Linked DNA regions of Homo sapiens: region 1 is linked to region 2. The links come from fine-mapping of genetic effects on gene expression. A gene starts in region 2. The other region holds a variant in brackets. All regions are shown on one strand. Distances are between the middles of the regions.

Region 1 (12,589 bases), 110 kb before region 2:
AATGAAAGCAGAAGAACTTCAGCGGAAGCAAAGATTATCAACTGACTTTGACCTCACCACTTTACTACATGCAGAGAATACAGCCCAAGAAGACAGGCATTCTATTCCCAAGGATAACTAGTTTTCTCCAGCCCAACCACTCCCTAGCTATGACTCAGGACAAGTTACTTCCTCTGTCTCAGCCTCTGACTCTTCATCTGCAAGATGGAGACAAGAACAATAGCTATCTCATAGGGTTATGGGGAAGCTCAAGTGAGATGACACAAATGTAAAGTTCCACAGGACCTGATAACAAAGTAGCTATTATGACAGTGCTATTCTAATTTTGATGATGATGATGATGATCTTTTCTCCTCCATCGTTCCCCAAAGCAATCAAATGCATGGGTAAGTGAAAAAGAAATTCAAGGAAACAATTGTTAAGGGCCAAGTGAGTGTTTCAGCCAAAAAAGTGCTGTATGTTATAATTCAGAGCTCACCTTCGTATCTTCCACTTGGTCACAGAATGAGAATTAACTCATGGGGGTCTTGCAGACCTTCCAGGGCCTCAGGGACTAGGAGACCAGTTGCAAATGTTACTTCCGGCACCAGGTACTACAGGCACCAAAACCACTTCTATTTGATTTATATTTGCCTAACAGGGAAAGGGGAATAGAGGGGGTCCTAAGAAGAAGCCTAATAGATGCCTTTGCTTAAGGTGACAATCATAAATTCTTTCTGATTGAAGAATTTTCAAAATAAGCACCATCATTACTATTCCCGTTATTCATACCAATAATAATGATAATAATAAATATATGTACTTACAATTTATCAGTTAGCCAGGCATCAGTTGAGTGCCATATAGACATTATCTTAGTTAACTTTTAACCATAGTCCTTTGAGGGAGAGATTGTGATTCCCATTTTGTGAATGAGAATTGAGGCTCAAAGGAATTATGTGACTTGACTGGGGTCACTAAGTGTTGGAGCTACAATGTGAACCCAGGTTTCACTAATTCCAAAGCCTGTGCTTTAACCACTGCACTATTCTGTCAAAGACTGACCCAAGGGGGTTCACAGTCTCCTTTCACTCCACCATCCCATATCTCCAACTTTTATCAGTGAACAGACACATGAAAAGGCAATGACCAGCCCAAGTCACAGAGGAACTCAACTGATGGCGTGTGAATTCACCTCCTGGTCTATATAATTCCTTGCATTCTAATGCCACATCGCCACCATTAGGACAGAGCTGGTGAACAGGTCAACTTAAAGGGGACCAATGACAGGACACTCATTAATTGATTGTCATGTAAAATTCTGCCTGCTGGTTCAAAGTCATATATCTTTTGTTCATAGTCTTGCCACCTATAAGGAAAAGAAGATAGGGCTAAATTCAACAACCAGGCATAAATTATGCAGAGTGGTATTTCGCATAATGAAGTCTTCGGTTGAAAAGATGATCCTCCTTGATAGAGATACAGATTTCGCTTGTGAACACATTTTCCTGTTGATGAACATTCAGTCTTTATTGATAGTAAATAGACTTTACTGACTCTGGTCTTTATTGTTATTAAATAGAGTCTACAAAAAAATCCTACAAATATGATCACCCCTCAAAAATTATCACTTTCTACAGAGGGTTCAGCCAGTGCTCAAACTTGACCACTCACAAGACCCCCTACCAAAAGATCAGACCAGAGAAGACATGACTGTAAGCACCTATTTAGAGCCTTCAAAACACACAGAATCGACTCCCTCCAGGCTTGAAGTCCAACTTCTTTATGTCCAGTCATTCTTTCAAATTCTTCTGCATGGCATATGGAAAGTTAACCAAAATATTATAATATACAGTCAAAGAAATTTGTTAAGAGGATCAACGACCTAAGAAAGATGATCTCTGAGATGATAATTGAAGAAAATTAAAGTTGGAAGGGATTAACTTATCCAATCTCTTTATTTTATAGCTATAGAAATTGACAACCAGACAGATTAAATGATTTTTCCAAACCCACACAATAAGTAGTCACAGAACCACGGGGCAAGGAAGGATGGACTGGGTACATATATAATCCAAGGAAGGTTATTTACCTGAATTTCTTATGTTGGTGTTGTTCAGTTTGGAGTCCTTGATCACCAAGTGTTTAATCCATAGAGTTGGGGCTGTGATTTCTAGGGGTGAGGAAAAGGAGAGAGAAAAAGTCTGGGCAAAGAGACTATGTGAGTGGAAGTGTAACCTCAGACTTCTTAATAGTCATTTTTCAAAGTCTGAGGCATTGAGGCTTCAGCTCTCTCCCACATCCACTCCTCCCAGTTCCCCTCCCTTCCTCACAACGGAAGCTTCTCTCCCCAACAGCTCATAAGAGCCGATCAGGGCATCCTGTGCTGGGAAGCAGAGTGGTCAGAATGCAGAGGCACTGAGCACTCCATCCAGGAATAAAAATATTATCCCAGGAGGTAAGGAACATGGGCCAAGCCAAGTCCCTCTCAGCTGCTTCCCTGGGAGAAGATTTAAAGGGGATAAATCAACAAACGAACGCCAAACAAACCACAGAGACCATTCTAGGGGAAACGGCTGAGCCGAGATTGCTCCAGGTGGGAAAGAAAGGAGTGCGTCTCATGTGTGCTTCAATCCCCTTTCTAATGGCTTCTCATGCGCAGAGGCTGAATTCCTCCATCAAGAGAGTGCCAGGGTGCCTCCAGCCTCTCCAGGATTTGGTCACCCAGTGGACAGATGGGAATCCTAAGTGACCTGAGCATACTGTGGAGTGACCTTCAATGAGGGTATTGGGGAGGTCTCCCAAGATGAGACAGTCTCCATCCCTCACCTGACCCCCCAGGGTCCCAGACTTGTCAATGATCCAGGACCTTTGTGGATCACAGAGACATCTACATCTAAACTTTTAGACATGAACATACAAAACTTCCCATAAGTGAGCTGATTGCAAAGGATATTGCACATTTCAATCCTCCTCAGAGCTAAGCTTGTGCTAGGGACATCCATAGCCACAGTGTTAACCCGTGGCATGATTTCTTTTTATTCTTCTGTCACTCTGCCCAGTCTCATGATCCAGGGCTGGATACGCTTAGCTAGGAGCTGCTCAAAGTTTGCTACATATTGCACTAAAATCCCAACCTTATTGTCATACTTTAGAGACTTCACTCTGCCAAACTTCCAGTTCCTCATCAAGGGAATATGGAGTACTCAGTACAGTAAACTTTAGAGTACAGGCCCTGAGCACCTCCAACTTGAACCTCCTGCACCCCGCACTCCTATCCTCTCTCTATGCCTCCAGAGACTTCCAGCCTCTCTTTTGCCACCAGCCACAATTTCTCTTGACCTAGAATTTCTCCTCTCCAAAATGTCCTGCCTCAACTCTCAACGTCCCTACAACCTACACAAACCAGTCCCACTGGCCAATCTCCTTCCTGCAACTTTCCTCACTGTATCCCATCCCTACCTCATTCCCCTCTTGTCCATGCCAGCACCCTGCCTGGAACACTCAGACTCCTCCCCACCACTTTCAAGATCCAGCTCAAGTCCTGGCTCTTCACAAAAGCTTTTCCCAGACCATGGTGATCTCTTTCTTCCATAAATGTCTATGACAATAAGAACGGAGACCCCGTAATTTAAAGCACTCTAAGAGTTGCAGCTGTCTTGAGAGCAAAGGTTTACATCTCCAAACCTCCTTTTCATCCCCCAGAGGGGCTCACACAGTGCCAGGCACAGAGTGGACACTTGCAAGTGCCAATTAATTTACTGAAGGGACACTGCCGGCCTGACTATCTTTCTCAGCTGTGATTCCTGGGTCTTGGCAGCTCCAAGGGTCTGTCCAGGCTGTGTTATTGTTGGACACCAGGAGACAGGCAGGAAGCCTGAGAGAACAGAGGGCCCTTCCAGAAGTGGAGAGTGTACCAATTCCTGGGAGGATCTGCATTTTTTAAAAAGGTTAAAACAACCCAGCTTACACTGGGAAAAATTGAAATTAAAAAAGAAAATAATAATAATAAAACTTAAACAAACATCCAACGTTAAGACTTTTCCCAAACCTGAAAATGAGTGGGAGAATGAACATCAGAAGTAATGCAAGATCTTACCATCTCCATCGAACACCGGCTGGGTCTCCATCGTGGGTGTCGGCTTAGACCCGTCATCTGAATTGAGGGTTAAAAAGAATCGAAAGGAGACTACCATTATTGAGGTAAATACTATCTACTCTCCAGCACTGTTGAATGGTTGGGGTTTGTACAAGGCCCGGCCAAGTCCCAGTGAAGAGAACAAAGAAAAAGAAACAAAAGAAGAAAAGGGCAAGAAGGAAAAGAGAACCATAGAGAGACAAAACAACAAAACAAATCCAGGTGTGTGTTCACCATCCCAAGGCATGGACGAAAGGAGTTAAAGCTTCGTGGCTTTGGGGGACCGTTTCTCACAAATCTGAGGATACCAGTATGACTCTGCTGGCCCTTGTTCCCGCAGGAAAACTGGGAGGCAGTATCTCCCCCTCAGCCCTGAGTTATGGCCAGGCATGTTAGCATAAGGTTGGCAATCCTTATGGCATCAAATTATGGTGTCCCCAGCTCCTTTCCTGCCCTAAAGCTACCAGCTCAGTGGCCCTGATTAAAGAGCTCAAGGAAAACAAGAGACCTGTGTGCCATTCCCTTCCAATCTCCTCACTGTTTCTCCACTTTCACCTAAAACAGATAAGAAGGCAGGAAGAACCATTCTCTCTCCAGCACACGGAACTGAAGAGAATCAGGAATCATTAGAATGCTTCTAACTGTGAAATAGCAAACACCCCAATTCCCAATAAGAGGGAGGGCAAGCAAAATGGGAGAGGACATGGGACTTTGCAGAAATCACCCTAGACTTGCTTTGAAATTTCTAACATAGATGATTGGAGCAGGGAGCTCCCAGTAACAAAGTCCTAATGCTTATCATTCTAATAGTGTTGGCAGTCCTCTCTGCACAGCAAGAACCTCTGCAGGTCAGGAGTTAGTGCAGACTTTATTTACCTTCCAGGACTCTGAGTTCTTTCATCAGGGCCCCAAAAACCTTAGCTTATAGCAGTATTTCTCAACCTTTTTTCCATTATCACTCATCTAAGGAGCATTTTTAGGTAATTTTTTCCTAATCATCTCCCTAATAAAATTTTAATAATGCAAAGAAACAGTATATATATTTGTGCTTCATATGTAAAATGAGTGTTTTTCATCCCCTAAGAAATAATTTTACCCCCTTAGAGAAGGCTTGGAGAGGGTATCTTTGTCCCTCTTAAGGTTATATAGTTTAAGAGATTTCTCTCCACGGGGGGAGGGAAGGAGAGCACTGTTGTCTCAGGCGGTTTGATGATTACACCATCCCTCTCTTCTCAAGACCCCTTAGAGGTCTTTTAGGATGGAACACTATATTCTCTGAGCATTAACTATTTATGCAGATTGCAAGTTCTCAGATAGTCTCTGTGACGCCAGTCAGATCATCAATAATAACAACCCTCTACCATTTGGAGCTCTCAGTACCTTTGGCCGACTTTCGTGCATCTTATTGGGGGAGGGAGAGAGAATACAGAGTCCTGATCTCCTTTTTGCATCAACATCTCACCCTTGGGAGCTTAAGATTCAAGAGCTATGGAGACTCTAACCCTTGTTAGAGGCTGAGGCCAGCAGCTGAGCTGACAGTCGGGTGACACCTGACCCTGATATTATTCTCATGTACTGACACCAAGACCCAACTCTTGCAGAAGCCAAAGTGATCCTGAATTATCTGACAATCATCCCAAGAAATGAGATGTAGCAGGAAGAGAAGAGTATCTATGCTGGATATACTATTTGCCTCAAACTGGAGTCCAAAACAGGCATCTTTTGATGCCAAACTGTGTGAGTTTGATCTGGAAGTCTTTGAGGGAGAATAAACACAGAACAGAGCCACACAATGTCATTTTTTTAATAGCATCACTTCCCCTGACTCTATTAACACCTCTTTCCATTGAATTCAATGAGCCACTGAATTGAGTCTTTTGGCAGCTGCAATGCACATTTGGTTGTGCCTGCCAGATACAGAGTTCACAGTCTAAATAGTCCAGCACAGTGTGCTCAGCCCTTCCACACAGGGTGGCTTCATTTTAGGAGTCTTACAGGCTAACAAAGGGAAAGTGAAAAATCAAACATTCCAGGAGGGATGATAATGAGAACTCAAGTGCATATGGCTTATGTAATATTTTAATATTCAATGTAGGTATGAAAATCCTCCCATATTACAAGAACTGTATCTCTTCTCTGGAGCAAGACAACTGAAAACATTCTGTTTATTTCTCCCATCATCCAGATGAAAATCTTGGACTGCCCATCGGGCCCAGCCATCAGCAAAGAAGGTCTGCACTCAAGGAGGGCAAAAAGGTTTTTTGGGGAAGCTTTGCCCTTTTGCAGGTCAAGGACCTCCACAGATTTCCCAGATGTAGTCAGAGAAGCCCATGAGGCATAAAGCCACTTGCAGGGAAGGAATCTTCCTGCAGGGTAGGGTCACTGAGGGTGAAGAGATACAGCTGCTCTGCCACGGGGAGGTCCTAAATGGAAATCTTTATGAAGTGAGAAA[A/C]GACAAGATGCCCTGCTGCCAGGAATCACCTGTGACATCCAGCATGCTCAAAGGCTGGGAAGCCAAGCCAAAGCGAACAGCACCCTCTAACCATCATCTCCGGGCACCTGGGCTCCTGGCTTCTGACCCAGCAAATAAGAGCACCTCTTCTACCAAACACAAGTCCAAGGCCTAGGTCCAAGGTCTACATCAGTTCTGCTTCCAGGCAAGCCCTGGAGCAACACCAGGCCCCACACTGGGCACTGGGGAGAGAACAAGGTTTCTATATGTGCTCCTGCCTCCCAGTCTTAAGGGGAGTCACACTCCAAATCCCCCTTCACATGTAATAAGTTTACTCTGGATAAGTTGAGCCCCTCCTTTTACTTCTCTGGATAGCAATATCCTCTTCTAAAATTGAAGGATACCTGCCTACAAAATCTCGGGACACTTTTTTGTGTAGGTGTAAAACACTTTAAAGGCCCACTAAAGGGCATCTATAATTCCATGAGTGCAAACCATCTTATTCAACTGCTTACTTTTAAAATTGGGTTTACAAAATTAAAATCCTATCAAAGTTTTTAAATTGAAAATAAGGTAAACCTTACAACTCAATAACAAGCAACCTTATTTAAATATGGACAACATATTTTGACAGACATTTCACCAAAGAAGAGATACAGATGGCTAATAAATACATGAAAAGATATCCAACATTGTTAATCATTAGGAAGGTACAAATTAAAACCACAACAAGATACTTCTAAACAGCCACTAGAATGGCTAAAATAAAAAGATAGACAATATTAAGTGTTGGTAAGGATGTGGAGGAAATGGAACCCTTGTTCATTGCTGGTGAGAATGTACAACTGGGCATCCACTTTGGAAAGGAGTTTGACAGTCTCTTTAAAAAGCTAAACATCAACTTTTAACCCCAAAATTCCACTCCTAGAATCCATCTAGGAGAATAAAAACATGCCCACACAAAGACATGTATAGAAATATTCACTGCAGCATTATTCATTAAAGCTTCAAACTGAAAACAATCCAAATGTCTGTCCACTGGTGAATAAATTGTGATATATCCATATGATAGCATACTATTCAGCAATTAAAAGGAATGAATTACTAATACATGTGACAATGTAGATGAAGAATCTCAAAGACATTATGCTAAGTATAAAAATCCAGATGTAAATACCACATGTTGTATGATTCCATCTATATGAAATGTCTAGTAAGGCTACATCTATAGACACAGAAAACAGATCTGGGGGTGCCTAGAGCTACAGGTAGGAGTAGAAAATACCTGTGAATGGGTTCAAGGTTGCTTTTTGGGGTGATGGAGATGTTCTCTGGTGACAATTGTACAACACTATGAATTTATTAAATTCATTGGGTTGTATATTTACAATGAGTGAATTTTACGGTATGTAAACTATACTTCAATAAAGCTGTTAAAACAAAAAGGGAGGTGTGCCCAAGTCATCACAAATAAATCATGAGGCAGCAGCAGCTAGATTATTTGAGTGGTCCTTAATTTGGGGGAAGACTCTTCCACTGTTTTAAAGAAAAATGTATGTGAATCTGTATATGCATGTGATGATGTTTGGTGTATATTCTTCGTGATTCTTTTGGACCTCAGAGAGTATTTCTCTTTAATACTATAATAATCTTCCATATTAAAAGGAAGAGGATAAACACTGAAAAAAAAAAAGCCAATTCAAAGATTATCCTTTTTCTTACAGGGAGGGAGAAAAAAGGCAAATTTGGAAACATGAAAACAAACAACAAATAAGGCAAACTGAAAGAATTCTCAAGGAGGATGTCAAGAGCAACGGTAATAATAGTATTACCACACTTTGCAACACTCAGTTCCTGGCAGGTAGCTTTCCTCATCTATTCTCACCACCAGCCAGGGCGGAGGGAGAAACCAGGCAGATAAAAAGAGAATTGAATAACAATGCAAGTAAGTGATTTGATCAAGGTCCCAGAGGCAGCAAGCAGCTTTGGAAACTGCCTGGTCCCAGAGCCCTGGCATTTGGCCTCCGGAGATTCCCCAACCCCCAGTCACGCCTTGTCCTTGCAGGTGCAGCCCCAGAAAGTTGCAGCCCCCGCATGGGCTCTGTGAGCCTATACAGACAGTGGGTTTGTGTGACAGCACAATTCCTTGCCCTGCGAGAAGGCCTGGCCCACGCACAGACAGCTGGAAGTCACTTCGACCCCCGATGACACCGTTCAAAGCCTCCTCTGTTTGGCTTTTTGATTCCTGATTGACATTCGCTGGCGAGGAGAGATAAATGCCAGGCTGAGGACAATGTTGATCCGCTCAGACTATTCTCAGGGAAAGACTTTTCAGAATAACAAACAAAACAAAACAAAAACCCAAAAACATTGGTGTGCTTAAGGGACTGAATAGAGCCCAAGAGGTCCAGGGACGCAGGGCCAGGCCTTTCAAGGGGCTGGCAAGTCCATTGAGGAGTTAATTGTTTGGGTGTACAATGAGTTTATTCTGGCCACATACAAAGAGCTTTCTCTTCCAGGTCCTTCAAAAGCAAATGTCTCAAAGGAGCCAGAGGAGGAATCTGTATTAATGGCATCTCTTGGGGTCTCTGAGACTGAGAAGCCTTGGAGAATGAGGAAAAAAGAAACCACTTCCCCCATTCTGAGATGTGGAAGGTCTGTCAACAATCCCAAGTCCCCTTCAATTCTTGGGCTCTCCCCAAACCATGTCCATCACTGGTGACCCTCCCTCATATTCTTTCAGGCTGCCATTGTCCATCTTTGAAAAAGACATGGAGATAAACTTCAGCCTGGTAGAAGTGCTCGAAGGTTCTTGCTTTGAAGGGACCACATTTATGCCAGAGCCACCATCCCCCTCCACATGTGATTCTGAGGCTCAATGTGGAAGTGGAGACAACTCATTCTGGGCATCGTAAGGAGACAACAGTGTCTGTTTGCAAAAGTCCCTTAAGAGCCTGCCCTGAATCAGACCCAGAGGAGGATGGAATGCTAGGCCACCTCAACATTTCCTGAGATGCATGCGCCATGACCAGCGAGGCTCAGAAATGGATGGTGAACTGTCCTGATTCTGATCTGTAGGAGCAGAAGTGGTCGGGCATGTCAGGTTCTTTCCAAAGCAGGAGGTCAGTGTTTTATATTCCGTATACCTACCTGCATGTTCCCTCCCAAAAGAAGTGAAAACAAGCTGAAAGCTGCCTTTTTGCAGGCAGTTCTCACATCCTTGAGCTGAAGAAGAGCAAAAACAGAAGGCTGGGGAAAAGGCAAACTGGGGACAGAAGAGGAAGAGGAAGCACCGGCAGCAGAGGAGCCTGGTCAGGGCTGGGTTCACACAGAAGACTCGGCTAATGTTTTTTTAACTTTTTATTTTGAAATGATTATCGATTCACAGGAAGTTGCAAAGATAATACAGAGAGGTCCTGTGTACCCCTCACCCAGTTTCCCCCAATGGTAACGGCTTTATAGTTAGCATAATGATATGGGTAAGCTCTTTAATTATCTGGGTGGCATAATTAGTACAAAATCAAAATCGGGACACTGATATTCATATAATCCATGGACCTTATTCAGATTCTACCAGTTTTAAATGCACTCATTTGTGTGTATCGTTCTCTGCAATTTTATCCACGTGTAGACTCAGGTAACCACCACCACCATCAGCCTAGAACTATTCCATCAGCACAAAGATCTCCCTTGTGCCACTTTTACTGTCACACTTTCCCTCCTCCACCCCATTCCTCACACCTGGCAACCACTAATCTGTTCTCCATCTCTATAATGCTGTCATTTCTAGACTGTTATATAAATGGAATCATGCAATATACAACCTTTTGAAATGGGCTCTTTTCATGTTGCATAATGCCCTTGAGATCCACTCAAGTTGTGGTTGCATATATCAACAATTCATTCCTTTTTATTGCTGAGTATTTTTCCAGGGTATAGATGGATAGGGGATCCCACCTTACTCACAGCAGATACCTTCCAAGACCCCCAGTGGATGCCTTCAACCGCGGATAGAACCGAACCCTATACATCCTGTTTTTTCCCCATACATACCTATGATAAAGGTTTATTTATAAATTAGGCACGGTATAGATGAACAATAATAACTAATAATAAAATAGAATAATTATAACAATGTACTTTTATAAAAGTTATATGAATATTGTCTATCTCTCAGAATATCTGATTGTACTGTATTCATCCTTCTTCATTTTGCAATCTATCCACTTGATAACAGAGCTGGCCCCAAGTCACAGGGAGGGTACACAGCATGGGTATGCTGGACAAAGTCATGATTCACATCCCAGATGGGAGGGAGCAGGACAGTGTGAGATTGCATCACACTACTCAGAATGGCTCACAACTTAAAACTTACAAATTGTTTATTTCTGAAATTTTCCATTGAATATTTTCAGACCATGGTTGGCCGTGGGTAGGGCAGTACTACTGTGCCACAGTTTGTTTCATCCACTGAAGGACATTTGGGGTTTTTTTTCTACTTTCAGCTATTACAGATAAAGCTGCTTCTTGTTCGTGTACAGGTTTTTTGTGTGTGTGGCCATAAATTTTCATTTCTCTGGAATAAATGCTCAGGAGTGCAACTGCTGGATTATATGGTATATGTATGTTTAGTTGTTTTTCAGAAACTTCCAAAGTATTTTTCCAGTGTGTCTGTACCATGTTATTCTTGCCAGCGATGTATGAGAGGTCCAGTTTCTCGGCAGCCTCACTATCATTTGGTGTTGACACTACTTTTTCTTTTAGCTCTCCTAATAGATATGTAGTGACATCCTGCCATGGACTTATTTTGCATTTCCTGTGGCTAATGATGCTGAGCCTCTTCTTGTGTGCATATTTGCCCTCTGTTTGTCTGCCTTGGTGAAATTGGTGAAATGTCTATTTGTGCATTTGGCCAATTTCTTTCTTTTCTTTTTTTTTTTTCTTTTTTTGAGACAGGGTCTCACTCCATCACCAAGGCTGGAGTGATGATCTCGCTTGCTGCAACCTCCACCTCCTGGGTTCAAGTAATTCTTCTGCCTCAGCCTTCCGAGTAGCTGGGATTACAGGTGCACATCACCATGCCTGGCTAATTTTTTGTTTTTGTTTGTTTGTTTGTTTGTTTGTTTGAGATGGAGTCTCGCTCTGTCATCCAGGCTGGAGTGCAGTGGCGCGATCTCGGCTCACTGCAACCTCCACCTCCTGGGTTCAAGTGATTCTCCTGCCTCGCGGCCTCCTGAGTAGCTGGGATTACAGGCACGTGCCACCATGCCTGGCTAATTTTTGTATTTTTTTTTTTTTTTTTAGTAGAGATAGGGTTTCACCATGTTGGGTAGGCTGGTCTTGAACCCCTGGCCTCAAGTGGTTCATCCACCTTAGCCTCCCGAAGTGATGGGATTACAGGTGTGAGCCACCATGCCAGGCCACCATTTTCTAATTAAACTGTTTTTTAGCTGCTAAGCTTTAAGAGTTGTTTATATTCTCTAGATATGAGTCCTATGTTGGATAGACGGTTTGCAAATATTTTTTCTCAGGCTGTAGTTTTTTCTTAATTCTCTAACAGCACTTTTTGCAGAGCAAATTTTAAAGTTCAACTTATATATATTATCTTCTAGATTATGTTTTTGGTGGTGAAGATTTTCTCTTGTTTTCTTCTAAAAGTTTTAATAGCTTCACATTTTACATTTAAGTCTACGATCCATTTTGAATTCATTTTCATATCAGGTCTGAGGTTTAGGTTGAGGCTTTGGGGTCGATTTGTTAATTTTATTTGTTTGGTCTGTGGATGTCCAATTGCTAGAGCACCATTTGTTTGTGGATCTGTTTCTGGGTCCTCTATTCTGTTCCATTGATTCATGCATCTGTTACTCCACAAATACCACACTATCTCTAGAACTCTAGCTTTATTCATCTTAAAATCAGATAAAATGGTTCCTCCCACTTTAGTTTTCTTTTTCAAAATTGTTTCAGCTATTCTAGTTCCATTGCCTTTCCGAAGAAACTTGAGAATAATCAGCCCTTGA
Region 2 (12,054 bases):
AAAGTGGAACCTGTAATCACTCTCAAACACACATTATCTGCATTTATTTGTTCATTCCATCAGTACCAACAAAGTAAATCTTGACAGGTGTCTGGCCCCTTGCTGAGCTCTGGAGATAAATCCCTGGACAAGACAGAAACAGTTCCTGCCTTCACCCAGCTTTCCATCTTCAAGGGAGACACAGAATTTAACAAAGACAGGCAGTTGGCTTGACCATCGGCCAGACACCATCAGCCAGGGAGAGCCCCTCCCCCATCCCATCCTCCCCTGAAACATTTTCAGTAAATTGTGCAGGATTAAAGAAACGGCTGCCTCCTCAGTGATTAAAAGAATCCTGACCAACGTCCCAGCTAGCCAAGCAACCACTCACAGTTGAGAGACCCCAAAATCAGGTGCTTCCTACATAATAGCCTCCAATCTGATACTCGATAGCCGCTGGTTTCCAGAGTCAAACAAATGTCAAGAATTTTATGAAGGAAGGCAGGAAGCAAATAAGGGGGCGAGGACTGGGGTCTAGGCCTCGGGGGAGCTCAATTAGTGAGCCAGATAAAGTTAAACTGAAAGGGCATGCTCTTGGTTTCCTAGAAAGCCAGCTGGAAAAGATGCCAATCCTTAAGCCTCTGTCACTCAAAAGATTAACAGAAGAGACTTAGGAGCGCCCACAGGGAATAATGCAACAAGCCAGATGTTTCTGCTCCTCGGATGACGCCGCTCTCAACAACCAGAGCTACACTTTTGAGGCCCCCAATAAGCCATAGAAAAGAACTGGAGTCTTTGGGGATAGGTTGAAATTCAGTCATTTGCCTTAAGTGATACAGACACCAAAAAAATATTAACAATTTCTCTGCAGACTCCCCTGATGTATCCGGGTTCTGTATTTCTCATCGAGCCATCTCTTTCTTTAACAGAAACAGCATCACTCGGATGAACACTCACTATAGCTGCCTGGTGGTGGGGAGAGCACACAACTTTTCAATCCATATAAACTGGAAGCTCAGGCAAGTCGATTGGCCACCCTGAGTCTCACTTTGTCATCTGTAAAATGGCTTTTAAAAGACCCAACTTCTTGTTCTCGTTCGAGTAAGAGATCATGTAAAGTGCCCAGCCCAGATGTTCATAAGTGGTAGCTCTTATTGTTATCTATAAACACAACCAGGTAACCACATGCTCGAGACAGCACCTTCTCCTTGGTACTTTCTAAACACACCAAGATGTGTGTGCACATGTGTGTGTGTGTTTGTGCATGTATGTATTTGAGTGAGAGAGAGAAAGAGGGAAAAAAAGAAAGAAGGAGAGAGAGAGTGTGAAGCAGCTTGGACATACACCAGCCTATTTACAATTCCTGCTTACGTTCCATCACTTCTATCAAATTAATAAACTAGAGGAGCTGGAAGGAACCTAACCACGGTGCCTGATTTCCCCTCAAGTCCCTAGCTTTCCCCTAAAGGTTGCTTCCTCTGATTCCAGGAGGCCAGGAAGGAGAGCCATATGGCTTGAGACTCTAGACAAGCCCAGCAGCAAACAAACGAGCCCCCCACCATTTGTCTCAGGGCCTCTCTCCTTTCGACCCTCCTGTGGGCGGCCATCCAGATTTCAGTCGGGGTGCTCTGGTCTGCATCTCTGTCTTGACTGTTCCTAATTATTGGAGGGAACGCATGGCTCGCCTGACCTCAGAGTTTAAGAGCTCTGAGTCCTAATATCAAACCAAGCAGCTTCATTTAAAAGGCATCCTCATCTGCATCCATAAAAGTCACTCCTGGAGCCCTTACTTGCCCCAGCTTTGGGAATGCCTGCTGTCGAGGATTTATGACACGCCCTGGATCTAATCTGCCACACTTTAACTGCTGCTGTTGCACATCTGGTCATAAAAGCAAGGGCTGGCCCAACACGGGGACAAACACTTTTCTTTCCTAAATGGCTGCAAATCTGATCTCACAGTGATACCTGGGCTTGGATGTAATCAACCCAGCATCTGGGCAGTCATTAAGACTTGTCAAGCATTGCAAGACTTTTTCTCCACACGACAGCTATAAAGATGATTCTCATATAGTAAAAGCTATGAATAAACAACCTGCAATCTGAACAGGTGGTAAAGGGCCAGGCCCAAGGATGTTCAAGAAAGAAAGCACGAGTTGGTTGAGCCAACCTTGTTTTCACAAAGATCCTAGCTACTTTCACATGGACTCTCAGGCTGCCAGTTAAGAGTCAATTGCCCTGACATAAACTGATGCTTGGCCAGAGATTGCCTGGATTAAGTTTGGTCAAAAGAACCACTAGGTCGTTTAATAGTACATGTTTCAAGGCAGTGAAATTCTTTATTAGACCAATTGGTGGGGGGTGTTGCGGGGATAATCTAGACCAGAAATGAACACAATACTGTCGGTTCCAGGAGATTTTACAATGCCCTGGACAATCTGTCCTGTGCACAGAATTGGCAGGTTTCATGTCGTTCAGAAACTCCAATCAGACCAAGGTTCAACGAGTAATTCAACCTCCCAGCACTGAACCCAGGGGGAGAGACCCCTGAACATTGCGCAACTCTCCCCTCCCACCTCTTTACAGTACCCCACCTCTGACCCTCTTCCAGTGCCTGCCCGGCAGGAGGTGACATTAAAATTATCTGCTGTGGGTTTTACGAGCAGTGATCGCTTTTTAAAACAACAACACAAGGTCCTTGTGTGGCTCGCGGGTAACCTAAAACTCTCCAGGCAGAGCTGCACCCGCCCCCGTCCCAACCCCCGCCGCCTGCCAACAACTCCAGCGCGCTGGACCGGGCGCCAGCGTGAGACCACAGGGAAGCCCTGCATGAGCGGAGAGCGAGCTTCTCTCCGACGCAGGAGGCACCTCTGAGGGTCTTGAGCAAAATGCAGGAGAGAAGAGATTGGGAAAGAAAACCCACCAGTGACAGTTCGGGGACAGGGGAGGGATGGTGGGTCAAGAAAGGGAGAGTGGTGGTGGCTCCAATGGGAGAAAAAAAATATTTCAGCAACTTCACCAAGCCCGCAGGGGACCTGGTAGTAGACAGAGGACAACAGGTCTCTGACATCTCTCTTCCCCCTCCTCCTTCCCTCAGGGATGAGGGGGGAAGCAACCTCCCCTCCCTCCGCAGGTGGGCGCAAAGCTGGGGGCGCACTTACCCTGGGGCCTGTGGTGCGGTGGCCGCGAGCAGGGGACAGCTGCACCAACACCAGCAGCAAGTGGGGCGTGAGCAGGCGGGCGCAGCGCGCGGGCAGCATGGTGCCAGCCAGGCTGGGCAGCCGGCAGCGAGCGGGGTTCGCGGGCTCCGCGGGGCGCACAGCGCGCCTCCCTTCCTTCCTTCGCTCGGGGCCCTCGCGGCGGCGGGGAGCGGGCCGTGGTCCTGCGGCGGGGGCTCGCAGAGGCTGCGGTCAGGGGACACAGTCATGAACCGCGCAGGAGGGGAGCTGGAGCGCGAGCGTGTGCTCTGCGCGCGGCGCTAGCTCCGCTCGGCGGGGCCCAGGCGGCAGCAGGTTGGACGCCTGAGCCCGGGCCATGGGAATTCCCGTTATAAACCCCCGGGAGGGGCGGGGCGGAGCACGGCGGGCCTGATTGACGGGCCAAGAGGCCTGTTGAAGCCGACCCTCTGGCAGGTGAAAGCCAATGGGAGAGGGGCAAGAGGAGCCACTCGTGGTCAACCCCCCGCCGAGGAGCTCCGCGGGAGTAGGCCCCGGGAGAGAGTGGGATAAAGAGTAACTTTCTCCCGGCACTCCTGCCCGAGGAAGCCTGAGAGAGCCCCAGCAGCCGGCACCCACCAGAAGGCTCACCTGGCTAATAATAATGCCTTAAGCATGTATATTTCTTAGCTCAAGCTCGTGATTGTCCCAACATCCTGGTGAAGTAGGCAGGGAAAATACTCCTAGCCCCATTTATCAGATGAGAATGCTGTGACACGAAGGCGCCGAGAGATCTGCCTCCCTGCTGCATCTGGGAAGAGTAACTGGGAAGTCGCTGGATGACCCGCACAGGGTGGGCTGTGGCGTTGGAGTGGGGAATGGGAGCATCCACTTCTTTCAAAGACTCTCCCTGGGAGGTGACATCCTGAGTCTCACAGCGGCTGCCCCGGGAGAAGTCGCAAGGGACAAGGTGAAGCGTGTGCTGGGCATTGGCCGCTGGGGAGGGCCTCTTGGGTACGGTAACCCCCTACACACACACACACACACACACACACACACACACACACACACACACACACACACATCTCCCAGCCCTATGGTCCGTATGATCCAGGATTGGAACTCAGGCATCCTAGCTTCCCCCTCTGAACTGGAGGGCAAGGGGCAGCCTCTCTATAGCCCAGCAGCTCTGGAAGAGGCGGGCAGAGAGGCCCTGGTCCCCTGATGGGAGACAAGGAGGAAAAGTATAGATGAGGAGGCGGCAGTCTGAGGATGCAGAGATCCCAGAGATGGGGTAGAACAAGGAGAGGAGATCTCTCCCGGGTGCCCGACCCTCTTGGAGAGGACAGCTCAGCGGAGCTTCAGTCAGATGTTGGGGGGCTCTGCCCAGGGCCATCCCCGGAAGGCCATCTTGGGAATGGTCACAGCTGCATCACACCGGCTCCTCAACAGAGCAAGGTGCTCAGCTGCCTTCAGTGAGACTGACATCTCCAGGAAATCACAGGGAAGGGGGCGGGGGGGCGCAAAATGAAACCCAGAGCGATCTCCTTATGTGGAGAACAACCTTTAGTGCTTACTTCCATCAGTATGGGCTACTTCGCAGGGAGGGATTCTTTTCTATAATTTGATTGTAAGCATCAGTGCCACACTCCCCCTCCCTATCTGGTCTGAGAGGTCCTAAGATTAGCTCTGCTCCCTCAGGGCTTCTCTCCTGGATTCCATGAAACAGCTTCGCACCTGACTCCTGAATTCAGTTTTGCCCTCTCTCCACACTGGCCCCATCCAACCTCCACACGGCAGCCAGTGTGTCTATTCGCTATTTAGAAGCCAGTGATCCTTTTAAGCAGCAAACCGGAACTCACCATTCCCTGCTTAAACGACTTCCCCTCTCCCCATTGCCCTCTGACAAGAAAGCTCAGACTGGATGCTGGAACAATAACAAAGTACTTGTGGTTCTCCAAACAAAAATGAAGCGCACTTCTAAAAGAATGGTCTATCTTTTCCTCCACTGGGAATGAGTGCTTTGGTCAGACAGACTCTGGAGCTGTACAGCAGGGTTCAAATCCTGAGTCTGCCACCTAGTGGTATAAGCTTGAAGAAGTCACTTGACTCATCCAGGGTCCCGTTTTTCTCTCTGTAAAATGGGGATAAAAATAGTATCCCCTGCCATGAGATGTTGTCAAAAGTAAAGGAGATGGAGTCTTTAAAGCCCTTAAAATAATTAAGTGAAAAGTATCACAATATGGCATTTGAAGAGGACAGGACAAATGCCTCATCTCATTTTATCCTCAGAACAATCTTCTGAAATAGGTCAGACATTCCTACTTTACAGGTAGATAAGTGAATACTCCATGAGATTGTGACTTGCCTGGCCTCATTTGGCTGGCAAATGACAGAGCCGAGACGCCGAGACTCAAGGCAAGGTTTTTGGAGTCTAATTCTGCTTCCATCATGTGATGGCTGCAATCTCCAGTCTCAAATCCCATAGGGTTGGACGTTCCTCTGTGCTAATTGGGAATTTCTTCAGTGGCCTACAAGGTGAACTGAGACTGGTGAGCTCCACTGAGCTTCAGAGGAAAAGGATGTAAACATCAGGGGTCAGCCCTTCCTGGAAACAGCCCTTGTGACCTGGCATCCTGGAGTTTGCCCAGCTGGACTTGTGACACTTGTCCAGTACCGTGCCCTGTGCAGCACTGACATCAATATCCATGTGTCCACCTAAGTGTTCACCCTCCAGGGGCTCAACAGGATGGAACTGTTACCATCGGGCTCAGCAGTGTGACAGGCTTTTCCTGACTCTACCACCTGGCTACATTCACCTATCAAGCTGGTCAACTCCTTCCTGTTGCTGGAACTATTGAGAAATCTGCTGGAGTAAGTAAATATGCTTCAGATGGCCCTGAGTATCTGGCAGCACAAAGTGCCCAGGGAAAAAGCATTGCAATAGCCCTTTCCATCCCTAACATCAAATGCTGCTTTCCAGCCAGAAAGCTTATTTCCAAGTGTTCACTGGTCCAAAAATCTACATTATTCTGGATTTCAATCATGTAGTTTAGTTCAAACTATGAGCAACTGCTTTCCAGTTACTCTGCTCAGCAAGTATTTTCTTTCCCTCTGGTTGGCATATGAGGCCTGTTGTAACCATGGCCATCATTCAGATGATGCATTTTCTTCTCCCAACTCCTCCCAAGCCCAGAGAAGGTTAGGAATTCCAGAGAACCACTAGTCCCAAACAGTATCTCTCTGCCAGGCTTAATCTTCTGATCCAAGCAAAAAAAGTAAAATTGACAAGTTTCTTCTTTCCCTGGAGGCCAGACTCATGGTCCAAAAATAATCTGACTATCTTGGCATCTGGTTTGTCCAGTTTCAGTCATACTCCTTGTCTTGTGGGACTTCTATTTGCAATGGGATATTTCAGTAGATGAAAATTAATACTTTATATCACAGATTGAGGTCTGAAGGCCTCAAATATTTAGTACTAACTAGAAATGCCAGTTTCAAATATATCTGTGTTTCTGGCCAGGCGCGGTGGCTCACCCCTGTAATCCCAGCACTTTGACAGTCCGATGTGGGCAGATCACTTGAGGCCAGGAGTTTGAGACCAGACTGGCCAACATGGCAAAACCTCATCTCCACTAAAAATAGAAAAATTAGCCGGGTGCAGTGGTGTATGCCTGTAATCCCAGCTACTCGGGAGGCTGATGCAGGAGAATTGCTTGGGAGATGGAGGTTGCAGTGAGTCAAGATCATACCACTGCCCTCCAGCCTGGGCAACAGAGCGAGACTCCATCTAGAAAAAAAGAAATATATATATATATATCTGTGTTTCTATATAATCCAGAGGATTCTTTCCTCATCTCATCTTCAGAATAGAATCTTTTCATCCATTTTTAGTAAGCACTTTGATGCACCTCCTTCTACGCCTTGCACAATGTTCATTATTATGATGGATCTTTGGATGCACACCCAGCCCTCTGAGAGGTTACCATCTAATTTAAGACACAGACCAGAGAGATACCTGGGGACCACATTTAAGAGTAAAGCTGGCCAGGCACGGTGGTTCATGCCTGTAATCCCAGCACTTTGGGAGGCCGAGGAGGGCAGATCACAAGGTCAGGAGATGGAGACCATCCTGGCGAACACGGTGAAACCCCATCTCTACTAAAAATACAAAAAATTAGCCAGGTGTGGTGGCGGGCGCCTGTAGTCCCAGCTACTGGGGAGGCTGAGGCAGGAGAATGGCGTGAACCTGGGAGGCGGAGCTGGCAGTGAGCCGAGATTGCGCCACTGCACTCCAGCCTGGGCGACAGAGTGAGACTCCGTCTCAAAAAAAAAAGAGTAAAGCCTGCAGTGTGTTGTAGGAACTCAGAGTGAGATGACCCACTGTAGGCCTAATGGGCAGGAAGGTCTCATGATGGAGGTAGATCCTGAATGAGGCTCTGGAGCAGAGTGCTTCTATAACATAAATATATCCTGATTTATATTTGCTTCATTTGTTACAATAGCTACCAATGGAAAGAGGTACACTGTATCTAAGGTCCAAGACTTTTGTCAAAAACACTAGTGAGCTTAGAAGCTTGAGACATTAAGATTCCTAGGTTCTGCTTTTAGATTTATGACTAACTTGCTGTAACCTTAGCATTAGGCTAAGGTAAGTATTATTAGTCCCAGTGTGCAAATGAAGTTTACCCGCAGACATTTAACCTTACCAAAGTCACTCCTTTAGCTTTAAATACACATGACAAAAATAATTCGAGTGACAAACAATTTAGAAATTTAGCTCTCTCTTTGGTACACAACTCCATTGAAAGTTTCGGGCAGCTTCCTCCAAGCCAGGCTCCTTCTATTATTTCTCTGTCATAATAAGCAGCTCTACCTGGTGGTACAAGATGATTGCTTAAGCCCCAGCCATCATATCTATTTTCCAGCCAACAGGAAGGAAAAAGAGGAAAGAAGAGCATGCTCCTCTTTTTAAGGACACCTCCCAGAAGTCACGTTTCATTTTGTCTCATTGGCTAGAACTTGGTCATATGACCACATTCAGCAAAAAAGGGCTTTAAAAAATGTAATCCTAATTGGAGGTGACCACATGTGTACAGCTAAAAGTCAACGTTTATGTTACTAAGAAAGGATACAATTCTGGGACACAATTAGAAGTAGAGGCCATCCTCATGAGTCGTCCTTGAGTTGCCAAACAAAAGGAGGCCACAGCATTCAAGCTGTGGTTTACCTCTAGTTCTGCAGACCCAGCTCCCTGGTACTCGAAAATATTAATGGCTCTTATGGACTAAATATGTCTCCCTGAAATTCATATGTTGAAAGTCTACCAGCTCCATGTGATGGCCTTGGGAGATGAGTCCTTTGGGAGATAATTATGATTAGATGATGATGATATACAGTCAAAAAAAAAAGGATTAGGTGAGGTCATGAGGGTGAAACCCTCATGAATGAGATTAGTGCCCTTATAAGAGTCACAAGAGAGTTTGCTTTCCCTCTCTGCTCTCTGCCATGTGTAGATACAAAGAGAAGTTGGCCATCTGGCCTCACCAGAACCCAACCATGCCAGCACCCTGATCTTGGACTTCCAGCCTCCAGAACTGTGATAAATACATTTCTATTGTTTGTAAGCCACCCAGTCTATGTTAAGGCAGCCTGAGCTGACTAAGACACTGGCCTTACTGCCAGACACCCAGACTCTTCGTGGCCACAAAAATTTCCTTCTGGTATTTCCCTTAGGCACGTTCAAGTGGGAGGAACTGAGAACATACTGGAATGAAGCTCAAGCCATGTGGTGCCAGGCTGGCAAGAAATAAGCCCCTAAAGAGACCAGTGGTCAGTTATAGTCACTGGGAATAATGCACATCTTGTGAAAATATTTTTGGCAATTGTCTATATTCTTCTGTTTCTATTTATTTCCCCTCCCTCTTCCACCTATAAAGGGATCTTTCTCTTCACCGGGTTGTTTTTCTGTAACCTAGTTCAAAATTAATAATAATAGTTGTAGCAACTATGAGGGCTTAGCAAATGCCAAAAATGAAGACCTTAGTATACACTCTTGCATTTACTCTACAAGGTAGGAAGCATTATTTTCTCCATTTCACTAATGAAGACACTGAGACTATGGGAGGTTAAATAACTCACATAGCCAGAAACAAAGAGCAGAATAAGAATCAAACCCCAATCCACCTTGTTATGAGGGTGGAGGGTACTAAAAGCTAACCTTTTGCTAAGCACTTTCCCTACTTTATCTCATATCCTCAGACCCAACTTATGAGGTTGTTACTATTGGTCCCATTGGATAGATGAGGAACTGAGGCTTAACAACAAAGGTCAAATTTACCAAGGGCAGTTCTTAAATTTTGCATTCACATCCAAAAATTTGGCATCCTCTTAACCCACTTATGCCTAGTGTTCCATTGTTGGAATGCTGAGCATGTGAGGGTTATTTATATCCTACTTCTCAAGGTCATCGCCAAGGTCTGATTTTGCAGTTCAAAAAATTGCAATCTCCAGCATAAATGGGTTAAATCTCTCCCCCTAAGAGTCAGAAGCACATACTGTTTTTGTGCATGCTATTTTGTTCATTGCTGAAGGCTGACTTCAATATCCATGGGTATGAATTTTCCCCATTCACCTGCTTTAATAGTCTGTGTTGTTTATACAAGAGTCCAGTTGGAAAAGGGGCATTTCCCTTGTATTCAGGACCAGAACCACCATGTTTAGATGCTCCAGAGAAAGCATTACCGCAACGACTTCATTCAGCCTGTGGTTTAATACTCCATCATAAATCATCATCATGTGGTCCTAATCCATTGGCATAGAGGCAAACCAGTCAATCAAACAAATTTTGCTGCATTCCTACTGAGTGCCAAACACTGCACCAGGGTCTAGGTATGCAGTGTGAACAAAGACAAAAGGCAAATGACATCAAGGAACTTACAGTCTAGTGGGAAGACAGATATTAAGCAACTAATTATCAACAATTAATTCACTAATTACAAGTATCCACGGTACTGCAAGGAGGCACAGGTGTTTGGGGACTTTATTTTAAAAGGTATGTAACCCAGTCTGGAGAGTCAGTAATAATTTTCCTCAGGAAGTGATGTTTTGGGGGGCGTTTTTTGAAATAGGGATCTCACTCTGTTGCCCAGGCTGGACTGCAGTAGCACAATCACGGCTCACTGAAGCCTCAACTTCCTGGGCTCAAGCAATCTTCCCACCTCAGCCCACCAAGTAGTTTGGACCACAGGAGTACGCCACCACACTTGGCTAACTTTTTATTTTGTAGAGACAGAATCTCTAGAGACAGGATCTCCCTATGTTGCCCAGGCTGGTCTCGAACTGCTGGGCTCAAGCAATCCTCCCTCCTCGGCCTCCCAAAGTGCTGGGATTACAGGCACGAGCACTGTGCCCTGCCAAAGTGATGTTTAAGTCAAGACCTGAAGGCTGTCTGATTTAAGCTGGATAAAGCGTGAGGGGAAGGGCATACTAGGCATAGCAAACAGCATATGCAAAGGCATTGAGGTAGGAGAGAATATGAAACTACATTTGTGACTAACTAAATCACTCTTATCCCTTTAACACTTAGCAGCTCAGGAAAAATAGTTATAACTATTTACCATCTGAGTATTTTTTTTAAATTTTGATTACATAATTGTTCTGAAATAACTATCTTTGACTATAAAGATTAGTAACAAAGATAACACCAGTTCAAGGTTAAACAGACAGTTACTGGACAGATGTCCTCACAAAAATATGGCCTTTATACAAGGTCATGCTTTTTATGGTCTTTTATTATAGCTTTTATGATCAGACATACAAATATAAAAACCCACTCCTCATGGCCTTCCTCAGCTCTATTTGTCAGGGTTTTCTTAATATTAGCGATTCCATTTTGATTTTGACAACTTTCACAATACAAAGAGAGGGTGCTTTGAGGTTTCATAGTCTCTTTCTCTTCAAAATGACTTTCTTTATATAGCTGTTCTCTTTTCATTTTCATGGTTGCTCATAGGAAACTATATATAAAGAGAAGAATTAGGGCCTTGTAAAAGATTAAGAGGTAAATTGAATTCACCACTTTGAAAGGAGGTTCTGTCTATAGTCACAATATCCAAGAACAAGCTGAAAATCCATTTATTAAATAGGACCCAGGAGAAAATGGGAAGTAAAATTCCATCTTTCTTGGCATTTTTTTTTCTTTTAGATAAATCACATATGCCCCTGGTGATCTGTGTGAGTAGAAAGTTTCTTACTGAAAACAGTTTTAAAATTCATCTCACCATATGGGTATTTTAAAATCCTTTTACAAATAATTTATAGAAGCAGTAATAAAGGGATAGTATATTAGTTACCTATTACTATATAACAGATTACTCCCAAAACTTAGCAGCTTAAAACAGCAAAAATTTCTCATCTCATGGTATCTGTGGCAGGAATCTTGGAGTGGCTTAGTTTGGTGGTTCTGGCTTGGGGTCTGTCAGGAGATTGCAGTCAGGGCCAGCTTCATGGGCAGGCAAACGGTACAATCACAAAAGGCCCTATACTTGGCTTAATACTCTGCTGTTGCTGTCTTGATTTTTTTTAGTAATTTTTGAAAAAGGAGCCCCCATTTTCATTTTGCACTGGATCACAGTCTAAAATTATGTAGCCAGTCCTGGTTGCACTCAAGCTGTCAGCCAGGATTACAGTCATCTAGGGCTGGAGGATCCTCTTCCAAGCTCACTCACATGGTCATTAGCAGGCCTTGGTTCCGCACCAGCTGTTGGATGGCCACCTCCATTCCTCTCCACATGAGTCTCACAACAGGATAGCTCACTTCCTGCCCAGAGGGGGTGGTGAAAGAGAAAGCCCACCTGTCTTTTATAACCTAATCTCAAGAGTGATGCACCATCATGTCTTAGCCCGTTCTTGCTGCTGTGAC

Alleles and levels. Positions count from the first base shown, and alleles are read on the strand shown. Sizes are in standard deviations (SD) of each study's normalised expression.
As copies of C replace A in region 1, the expression in aorta of the gene that starts at base 3,499 in region 2 goes down (moderate effect, 0.47 SD a copy in GTEx).

Evidence for each region. PIP is the estimated chance that this variant, and not a neighbour inherited with it, causes the effect.
Region 1: its variant is fine-mapped to the expression of SMOC1 in aorta (GTEx, PIP above 0.99).

The regions. Positions count from the first base shown.
Region 1 is chr14:69,983,963-69,996,551 of GRCh38, reverse strand. SMOC1 (SPARC related modular calcium binding 1) reads right to left here. Exons shown (of 12, transcript NM_001034852.3): 6 at 4,079-4,135; 7 at 2,072-2,152. Among named protein-coding and RNA genes, the nearest start is that of SNORD169, 12 kb to the right of the region's middle. RefSeq lists an enhancer at 8,691-9,192. The variant A/C (reference allele first, on the strand shown) is at 6,570.
Region 2 is chr14:69,870,861-69,882,914 of GRCh38, reverse strand. SMOC1 (SPARC related modular calcium binding 1) reads right to left here and starts at 3,499. Exons shown (of 12, transcript NM_001034852.3): 1 at 3,138-3,499. The coding sequence starts at 3,236. RefSeq lists a silencer at 3,312-3,401.